2 separate regions of the Homo sapiens genome follow, and region 2 is linked to region 1. The links come from fine-mapping of genetic effects on gene expression. A gene starts in region 1. The other region holds a variant in brackets. All regions are shown on one strand. Distances are between the middles of the regions.

Region 1 (5,000 bases):
AAAAGGAAGAAAAATGTATCAGCTATTCTCAGTCACTCTTCTTCTACCTGTGGTAGGAAAAAGGAAAAATCCCACAAAGATAAGTCTCTGACATCAGAGAAGGCAAGAATAACAAGTCAATTTTCCTGCTAGAGCAACTTTTGTTTTCCACCTAGAACAACGCACCATCAATTTAAGTAGGAATAGCACAAGGTTTATTATATACCAAACAACTCTATCTGCATCAGTGCTTTAACTAGGTTTTTGTAGGACATAGAATGCTTTGAAAAATTCTGCAAACAACAAAATATAATGTAACTAATATCACTCAGTGGAAAACCAAGTTTTATAATAGCAGTTATAAGAGTAATAACTGGCCGGGTGCGGTAGCTCACGCCTGTAATCTCAGCACTTTGGGAGGCCAAGGCGGGCAGATTGCTTGGGCTCACGAGTTCAAAACCAGTCTGGGCAACATGGCGAAACCCCGTCTCAAAAAATACAAAAATTAGCCAAGCACGGTGGTGCACGCCTGTAGTCCCAGCTACTTTTATTTTACAATTCTATTAATCCCAGCTAATTTTATTTTACAATTCTGCCATAATTTTTTTAATGAATTAATAAATGTCATGTAGTCTCTTCTTCTAGCCTCCCAATTATACTAAATACTATTCAAGTTACCAGAAATAGGACAACAGTTCCAGGAACTTGAGAATCAATAACTCTTTAAACCAGTGGTAATTCATGTGGAAAAGTTCAGAACAAATCAGCATCAACTTCCTGGCTCTCTTGCACAGACAAAAAATTCATATTGCTTCACCAATTTTCAAAAATGTAAATTTGTGTATATAAGTTTAAAACTTGGACCAAAAGTTATCTACATTTATTCCCAATTTGCGACTGGTATCAAGATCAATTAACTTTCTCAGCAAGTACACTGTTATAAAATTCCACAGTGATCCCAGAATGGAAGGGGCTTAAAAAATAATATAAAACAAAAATTAAACTCCACAGTGAAGTAGGTCTATGTTTAATCATTCAGAAAAAGAAAATTATGTAACATATTATATATAATGATGATGATAACATATGCTGTTCTGGACTCCTACTGAGAGCTGTGGTTCAAAGGGAAATCGTGAAAATAAAGTAAAAATTGCCGAAAATGTTTAATTCTGCCCAAAACAGTTTCCAAAAAAGAAGCCAAATATAATATTTTATTTTAAGTTCAAACAGGGTTCAAACAGCTCAGAAATTTTGTATACTTAAGTTTTCAGAAGTCGAATCCCAGAACCGCTATCAACATAAACTGAATAACTTGCTCAAGAGTCCTTACTTATTACCCAATCTTAGGTCCCCCAGAATACTTCTTAAAATAATCCCAAATGTACTACAATAGATTAGCGTAACCGGGGCTACGCTGTTTACAGGTGTCTCCACCTCCTCCCCCAAGGAGAGAAGAGGTATACTAGGGTAAACAGAAAATAGAAGGAGACTATATACACACCAAATAACAGCTTGTAATCTTCTAAGACTTCTTTTACATTCGGGCTATTCTTTTCATTAACGTATAATACATTTTAAAGAATAACATATTCACAGAGTAATACAATTTCTGCCCTCACGGGTCTCTAGCTGGCTGACACGCGTTTTCTCCTCAAATAAATACATGCCTGTTGACTGATGCCTGTCCTGCTGTTGCAAACAAGAAATAACTGTCCTATAAGACAAAAACCTCTCTCTACGGTTCTAGGCGTAACCATACGTTTGAATTAAAAGCACATTGGAACAACAACAACAATCTTCCAGCACATCTGTCATTTAAAAGCACGATAATGAAAAGCTGTCGCTGCGACCCAATTTTAGGTCACAAGCTTTTTACTGTTTTTCCTGCCCCCCACCTCCAGAAAACAATAAACTTCAAAGGGAATGGTGGTAACCAGGAACAGTTCCCTTCCCCCACCACACACCCCCCCAAAAAGACTAGAAAAAAAACTGGTCAACTTGGACGCTGGCCGCGCTCACGCAGAACCCGTGCCCGCGGGCCGGGGAAGGCTGAACAGACCCTGGGAGGAAAAGTGGGCCTGCAGGCACCCCGGGCTCCCCCCGCCGCCTGTCTCAGATACCGAGCAGGTGGGATTCCGGGAAGCCACCTCCGACTTACGTAACGGGCTTGTCAAAATCCCAGATCCAGGACCTCCCCCTCCCCGCCCCCACTCCCAAATAACAACAGCCCCAGGCCAGCCTGGAATAGAAAATCTGGAATGAAAACACAGGAGCCCCCCACGCGTCCGACGCAGAGGCGCGGGTGCTACTCTCAGCACCGCCGCGCCATCCCGGGGCGGACCGAGCCGCGGAGCACCTCCCGGATCTCAGGAGCTCTCGGGCGGAGATCTCGGCCATCCGTGCCTCCTCCCCGAACCCACCCGCCCCGCTCCCGCGCCCCCGGCTGTCACCTCTCCGGGCCGTGACAGCTCCACCTGCCACCGCTGCCCGGGTCGCCGCCCCCGCACTCACCACCCAGCTGGCTCCCGTGCGAGCAGCGGATCGAGCTCGGAGAGCGGCGCCGGAATCCCGCACGCGCGGTAGCGGAACACGAGGGGCTGAATGCCGCGGCGCTCTGAGCCCGCTTAGCTCATCCCCAGCCCGGCGCTCCGCCCTTCGCGGCACCCCCGCCCGCCCGCCCAGGCCTGCCGTCTCAGTCAGACGGGACTCCCCCTCCCCTCGCGGCCGCCACTGCCTCCGCCTCTTTCTCCGACTCTAGCCTCCGCGGCCACCGCGACCGGCGCCATCTTGGCAATGACGGAAGGGGCGGGGGCGGGAATCACGCCCGCGAGCACCAATCGAAGGCCGGATCTGGCCCGAGTGGGAGGAGAGGGCCGAGTTGAGGGTCGTGGGGTCCTAGCGCCAAACTGATAATGGGGCGGTGAAGGTGGGCGGGACTAAGTCGCCTTAGTCCGTGACGTGCGGTGTAGTTGGGGAAACGCACCGTGGTTCCCCGTCGGGTCAGGAGATCCCGAGCCCCAGGCTGGCGTGGGCGAAGCGTACAATCCCTTCACCTTTCGTCACCCAGAGGCACAAGAATCCAGTTCGCGCCAACTGACCTGTTTCTTCCTTCCTCCCCGGCACTCTGGGAGTCCTGAGATTGCCTTGCTCGGTTCGTCTCAGACTTGCTAGATCTGAGCAGCTGCTGCTCCTCCACCAAGGGTGCTCACATTCTCCAGGAAACTCCCTTAAGGGTTAGCAACCGCCGAGTAGGTTTCGGTCCCAAGATAGAAAGGTAAAGCGGGGAATTCAGGGGGTTTCTCCGAAAAGTACGTTGATGAAACAGCTATTGTTGACTGACGGGGTGTCGATTACTTTGGATTAATTGGATACGGCCTACTTAAACCTGACTGTGGCTCTCCACCATTGATGGCTGTTGACAGATGAGGTTAATAAAGCTTGATTACCCCCATGGGGTTGCTCGGGAGTTAAATTCTATAGTACCTGTGAAGTACTTAGTATAGTGCTTGAAAGTACTCAATAAATGTTAGACATTATTCCATGGACAAATGAAAGAAGAAACAGGACCCCCAAAATCCCTCTGCTTTAAAGTCAACTTTTCCTAAATTGCATAGCCTTTTACTAACCAAGTTTACAACTTTATTTCCTACCTCCAGTTCTTTCATTGTATTCATTCATTCAGTCAACAAACATCCATACAGAGGGTGCACAGTGGTGAGGGAAACAGAAAACCTTTGCCTTCAGGAAACTGCAGTTTAGTGGGAGAAGAGGGACAATAAAAAAGTACTTAAGCACATTTTAAGGGGAAACATGCTATAAAGGTTAGAAAAATAACTGAGGCCAGGCGCCTTTGCTCATGCCTGTAATCCCAACGCTTAGGGAGGCCGAGGCAAGAGGGTCAGCTTGAGCTCAGAAGTTCAAGACTAGCCTGGCAAAATGGCGAGAACCCTGTCTCCACCAAAAATACAAAAAATTAGCCGGGCGTGGTGGCGTGCGCCTGTGGTCCCAGCTACTTGAGAGGCTGAGGTGGGAGGATCGCTTGAGCCCCAGAGCCGGAGGCTGCAGTGAGCCGAGATTGTGCCACTGCACTCCAGCCTGGGTGACAGAGCAAGATTTTGCTTTAAAACAAAACAAAACAATCGAGTTGCATACTTTAAATATATGTAGTCCTCTGTATGTCAGTTAAAGCTGTAAAAAAAGACTTGTTTTTGACACAGAGTCTTGCTATGTTGCCCAGGCTGGAGTGCAGTGGCCTGATCACGGCTTACTACAGCCTCCCTCCCAGGCTCAATTGATCCTCCCACCTCAGCCTCTGGAGTAGCTGGGACTGCAGGTGCCCACCACCACACCCAGCAAATTTTTCTGTTTTTTGTAGAGACTATGTCTCACTATGTTGCCTAAGGCCGGTCTTGAATTCCTGGGGTCAAGTGATCCACCCACCTCAGCCTCCCATAGTGCTGGGTTTACAGGCATGAGCCATTGTGCCCTACCTTAAAAAGCTTTTTTTAAAGTCCAGTTGGGAACCCTCCCAATTCTTTACCCATTGGACACAGATTTAGCCTTTCATTAGTTTTAAGTGTTGCTAGACGTATCAGGTCAATTCCTCTTTAAGGAGTAGCTTGGCATATCAAAATATTCCACTAGCAGCAAAAGCACTCTTTTAGTTGGTTATACATGTATATGTGCATATATATATATATATACACACAAATATTTTCATCTACAGAGTACCAATTAAAATGTTATATAGTTGCATGTAGCATACACAATGAGATTCTAAAACCTTTCAAAAGTTTAAAAGGCGTGAAGGTTTTTTTAATCAGAGAAAATAGCTTCTTAAAGAACAATATTGATAAACAGTAGAAAACCAATACGCAGCATTTGACTGTGTACCCAGGAAGTATCGTACCTCAGAGCCCCCCTTAACAGTCATATCAGGAGTCCTCTCAACACTCCAGGCATATGTGACTATAGTCACAGTTAAACCTAAACCCTAGATGTGATTTGGGCAAGGGATTCTA
Region 2 (5,492 bases), 150 kb before region 1:
GGAGAGAGGTATTGTAATGAGCTGAAGGGAGGGTGGGAGGGGGCATGGAAGGGGCATTTGGGAAAGCTTCATACAAGAATTCACCCTGAATTTTATAAAAAATGGATAAGATTTGAGTAGGCAGAAAGGAATGGAGATGGCATTTTAGGCAGGAGAAAAAGGCATGAACAAGGGAACAAGACTTAGAATAGATTAAGTGTATTTAGAGGACAGTTGATTTTCATTTATTCATTCATTTAATAAATATTGAGCTCTTGCTAAGTGCTGGGCAGTGTTCTCATGCTGGCCACACAGTGGTGAATAAAACAGTCTACCTTCAAGATGCTAGTGGGGCAGTCAACTTATTTCCACAAATAAATTGGGGAAAGTGCAGTGAAGGAAAAGAACAGGGGTCTATAAAAGAATTATACATGGCTTCCCAGAGGAAGGTGACACTTAAGTGGAGACCAGAAGCCTGAGGAGGGAAAGAGCATTACGGACAGGGGGCGAGGGGCCCTGTGATGAGGGTTTTGAGGTGGGTGAAGAGGATGGCACATTTCAGAAACCCAAAGACAGTTGGTGCCACTGGACTATGGTGAGTGGACAGATTCGACTGGGGGTACTGCATTGCAGGCTGAAGCCAGATTATAGAAGGTCAGACTGGAGGGATGGAACATGTTGAAACATTTTCTGAGACCAGGTTATCTCGGAGTGTGTTTCTGTATTTCAACCTGAGGACTTCCGTGGAGAAAGGGATGTAGGGAGAAAGTGAGGGTCTCGCCACAACATCTCGTGACTCCTCTCCCTGTTTGCAGCCGGGCGATGGGGCCATTGCGGTGGATGAGCTACAGGATAACAAGAAGCTGAAGGTGGGTGCCGTATGGAGTCTGCCCAGTGGGGACACTGCAGGGTCTCAGTGGATGATCACAGGCCCAGGGTATTGTGGCCCTGTGCTGGGGACCCTGGCTGTGCTCAGGCCTAGGAAACTCCTGGGAGCGCTGCCAGGGTGAGGCAAGGGAGGAGAGGGCTCTTTTTCTGAGAACTCTCACCTCTAGATGGCCTTTGAGGAGGTGCTAGTTTGGGAGCTAAGTCTGGAATGTTACAGTCCTCTCTGCCATTAGCTTGCTGTGTGACCTTGAGCTTCAGATTCTGCATCTGTAAAATGACTGTTTGAACTAGATGAATTCAAGTCCTAATGTACAGCCCAACATTGTATGATTGATATAAAAGCCAGATTACCTATGGCTTTGGAATGCCCCAGAACTAAGAGAAAGATAGCAGGGGAACTGGAGAGGACAGGAGTCTGAGGTTTCTGAAAAACTGTGTCTTAGCTGTTTATAGTCTATGAAGTATCTGGAAAGAATTATGGGGAACTTTGAAAGGAGTTCCGAACTTGAACCTAAAGAACCTCCCCCATCCAAAGAAAATCTCTGACTTGTGGTGAAGTAGTGTCACCACAACCACTAGATGGCAGAAGAGTTCAGATCAGAGGGATGAGGGGGAAGAAAGGAGGGAGGAAGAAGAGAAGGGAGGGAGGACTCCGCAAGTGTGGAAGCGTTGTCTTTGGATGTTCCATTGTAAATCAGATGATATTTCTATATGTGTCACTATGAATAAGTGTCACATCTGTGTCTGTACAGTATAGATGTGTGTGTATGTGTGTACCTGTGAGGGTCTCTGAGCACATGGGCAGAAAAAAAACCAAAACAAAACTGAAAACTGGGAATCAGAAGACCACAGAAGACCTGGGTACCAGTCTGACTCTTTCATTTACTTCCTGCATGACCTTGGCTTAGGCACCTAGCTTCTTTGAGTTTTCCTTTCCCTTTCCATAGATGGGGATCATAGCTTTGCTTGTCTCTGGGAGTGGGGCAATGATAAAACGTGATAATGCTCTTTGTGGACTGTAAAGGGCTGTAGCCATGTGCAGTGGGTCTGTCTGTGTGGTGTGTGGGTGAGGGAGTGTTTCTGAGGGTGTACTTGCAGGGATGTGCAAACCCTTCATAACGTGATATTCCTAATACACCAGGTTGCTCCCTGTGGAGACGTTGGGAAATTATTCAGTACCTAAAACAAAATAGTCCTGGAAGAGCTGAGGGGAGGCTGAGAAAGAAAGTAGTGTAACTCTTCTGGTTGGAGGTGGAGGAAGAGGGGAGGTCAGGATAAGGCATCTGTGCTTTCTCCCTGATCTTTATGGGAAAGAGGCAAGGTTAGTGATGCCCTCGTGTGGTTCCTCCCCTGGCTTGGACAGGGGCCC[A/ACTGAGGC]CTGTGCGGCTCTCCTCTTGCTCAGCTCCCGTCCTTGCTGACCCGAGGGAGCAGCTCGACCTCTCTGCACAACAGCACCATCCGCAGCACCATCTACCAGCTCATGCTCCACAGCCTGGACCCCCTGAGGGAAGGTAAGCAAGGCCTCTCCAGACCTTTGTGGTTTGCCCCATCCACTCCTTCCCTCCTGCAGCTGGAGAAGAACTGGGACCTGAAAATCCTAGAGGCAGTGAGGAGGGAGTGGGAAGAGATAATAAGCAGAGGAAAGTAGTAAAAGTCAGACAGTCTGGGAAAGAGGGTAGAGACCAAGACAGGGGACTCACCAAGAGAGGGCAACAAAGAACATGGAGGCTAAGGTCCTTGGGTATCCACATCCCACTTCCCTGCCTCTGTCCCTCCCTGTAAAATGAAGGCATTAACCTGCAGTTAGGCTGTGAGTACCATGTGCTCTGCACAGATTTGGGATGGGGCTGCCCTGCAAAGCCCACTGCCCAGGAGTCAGCCCCAGTGTTCCATGGAGAGTGTCTAGCCAAGCAGCTCAGCCCAGGCTGACTGGCCTGGGCTGCTTCTGGGGACGCCTCTTGTAGGGTCCCAAAGCCCAGAAGTTCTTAGTGGCACTTCCTTTTGCTTTATATTCAACTCTGGAGTCCTAGGAAACCTGCCAACTCCTCCCCAAGTCTGGAATCCCAAAGGACACCCTGGAAACTGCCAGGACCCTTTTAAGGGTGACGAGGGTAAGAGCAGGGTCCAAAGTATAGTGGGGGCTGTTGTCCAATTTGACAAATGGTGGCAGCGGCTGAGATTCTCACTGTCCACCTTACCACATCCTGCCTTCTGCTTCTCTTCCCCAGAGAGCTGCCCCCAACATGCATCTCAGACCCCTAAAGGGCACTTCTCAGCTACTCTCCTGCTCTCCTGGAGCCTCCCCATCTCTGGGGCTCTGGTGCAGAACCGGAACCCAGCCAGGAGGCCCATCAAGGAAATGCTAGCCTTTGTGCAAAAGCCAAGGGCTTGGACTGCAGTTGGGCAGGAGGGCTGAGGGCTGAGCTGAATATGACACCACAGAATGATCCATTGAGTCCCAGGGAGCACTCTGACTGACCTTTCTGGCTCAAGGACAAATTTTCGGGGCTCAGAATTTTCTTTAGGCTCTGAAGTCCTTTTCAGAGACAATATTGGGTTGTCAGTTGTTTTAAAAAAAAATACCAGCCAGGCATGGTGGCTCACGCCTGTAATCCTAGCATCTTGGGAGGCCGAGGCAGGTGGATTGCCTGAGCTCAGGAGTCCAAGACCAGCCTGGGCAACACGGTGAAACCCCATCTCTACTAAAATACAAAAAAAATTAGCCAGGCGTGGTGGCAGGCGCCTGTAATCCCAGCTACTTGGGAGGCTGAGACGGGAGAGTCACTTGAACCCGGGAGGTGGAGGTTGTAGTGAGCCGAGATTGCACCGCTGCACTCCAGCCTAGGCTGCAGAGTGAGACTCCACCTCAAATAAATAAATAAATAAATAATTTTTAAAAAGGCTGGACACAGTGGCTCACGCCTGTAATCCCAGTACTTTGGGAGGCCAAGGTGGGCGGATCACGAGGTCAAGAAATCGAGAGCATCCTGGGCAACATGGTGAAACCCTGTCTCTACTAAAAACACAAAAATTGGCACACACCTGTAGTCCCAGCTACTTGGGAGGCTGAGGCAGGAGAATCGCTTGAACCTGGGAGGCAGAGATTGCAGTAAGCCAAGATCGTGCCACTGCACTCCAGCCTGGTGACAGAGCGAGACCATCTCTAAATAAACAAACAAACAAACAAACAAATAAATAAATAAACCATACTGTGAAAAGCTGCATCAAAGACAAGTGATGAAACCTTCCTTAGGAATTCCTCAAGGTAAGAACAGAGAGAGAGAGAAAGGGAGAAAAAAATTAATCTAAGCTGCTGATGGAGCTGTTAGGAAAAAAAGAGAGAGAAAAGAAAAAATAAAAAGCAATTCCTCAAGGTAAACCTCAGCAGACATGTGAGAGAGGCCATCCCCAAATGTCAGCTCTAGAAAAATAGTACCTCTGGGGTTTGCAGAATGGAAGCTGCAGCCCCTGACAGCCTCTGGTGATGAGTGCCGGGGTGCTCTGGCCAGGGCCCCATGAGGAAAGCTGTATCTCTGGGTCATCAGTGGCTACTCCCAGAGGAATCACTGACTCTAGCAAAGTCCTGATGATAAAGACCTCTTGGGTGGGACTGGAGGGCCCCCAGCTGGGCATCTCCATGACCAACAGCCTCCAGCTGGCCTACTTGTCCTAACAGGATTATGTGATGTTCAGGCCAGGCTGAGGTCAGAGGAGATTGATGCTAAAGCCATGATCCGGCCCTGCTGAGAGGGGAGAGGCATGTGAGGAAACGAGTGCCCAGGAGCCAGCAGCAATCATCCCAGGGAGGACAAGCATGCTGGTACATTGTCTCTGGGTGTCTTTGGGGCATGGAATGGCTCTCGTGACTGCAGATGTCCTCTGGGATTCAGTCGTGCTCAAGAGCCCAGCCTGATTCTACACCCTGAGATGACATATGGGAGGGGTGGGGACCATGCAGGGCTGTGATGAGGGCCTTTGTTCCCCAGGCTCTCTAGATGCACATTTGTGTTTTTGTATGCTGTTTCCAGATGGCCGTCCAGATGTTTCCACTCTTTACAGGTGTTCCAGCTCTTTCCACAGAGCTGATCCGTGGAAAAGATGTTTCCTGGGGTCTGAACTCTCACCTTCCCTGTGAAGGGGCTTATCCTCTCCAGGGTCCCATGGCTTTTCTGGTGATTTCACTTGGATGTGTGTGAGACAGGGTGGGGGAGACCCTGCAGCTGACCTGTTTTCCTCAGTAACATGGGAAGTGAGAGTCTAGGCTGTGATGAGGATGAGAAGGAAAGGGGGAAGCTTGTGTTTATGGCTAGCCCTTCCAGCAACAGCCAGCAGATAATCTCAGTGCCAAGACCAGAACCAAGGGAGCCCTCCTGTGACAGCAGCTACACATTGCTCAACAGAAGACTTCAGGGTTTGATTAGTGCCAAGGGGGCACTGGGTTTGTCTGGACGAAGGTGTGTTGGCCCCCCACCTCTCAGTTCTGATGAGGACCCAGGCCCACCAGGCCACTTCGAGGGACCACACATGTCATAGTGGCTCTACCCATGGAGCTTATTGCCAGAGCCAGCTGCAGCTGAACTAACTGAGAGTTTAGGAGACAGGTAGAGAGGAGGAAATTCCAGACCCATTTATC

Evidence for each region. PIP is the estimated chance that this variant, and not a neighbour inherited with it, causes the effect.
Region 2: its variant is the best candidate, but not a certain one, in a credible set for the expression of DENND4A in whole blood (INTERVAL, PIP 0.63).

Annotation. Positions count from the first base shown.
Region 1 is chr15:65,789,520-65,794,519 of GRCh38, forward strand. It overlaps DENND4A (DENN domain containing 4A), which reads right to left and starts at 2,774. Exons shown (of 33, transcript NM_001320835.1): 1 at 2,491-2,774. LOC105370866 (a long non-coding RNA gene) reads left to right here and starts at 2,954. Exons shown (of 3, transcript XR_932372.2): 1 at 2,954-3,253. RefSeq lists a silencer at 2,331-2,660 and enhancers at 2,662-3,627, 2,851-3,470.
Region 2 is chr15:65,637,334-65,642,825 of GRCh38, forward strand. It overlaps SLC24A1 (solute carrier family 24 member 1), which reads left to right. Exons shown (of 10, transcript NM_004727.3): 3 at 795-848; 4 at 2,262-2,370. Among named protein-coding and RNA genes, the nearest start is that of SLC24A1, 18 kb to the left of the region's middle. The variant A/ACTGAGGC (reference allele first, on the strand shown) is at 2,237.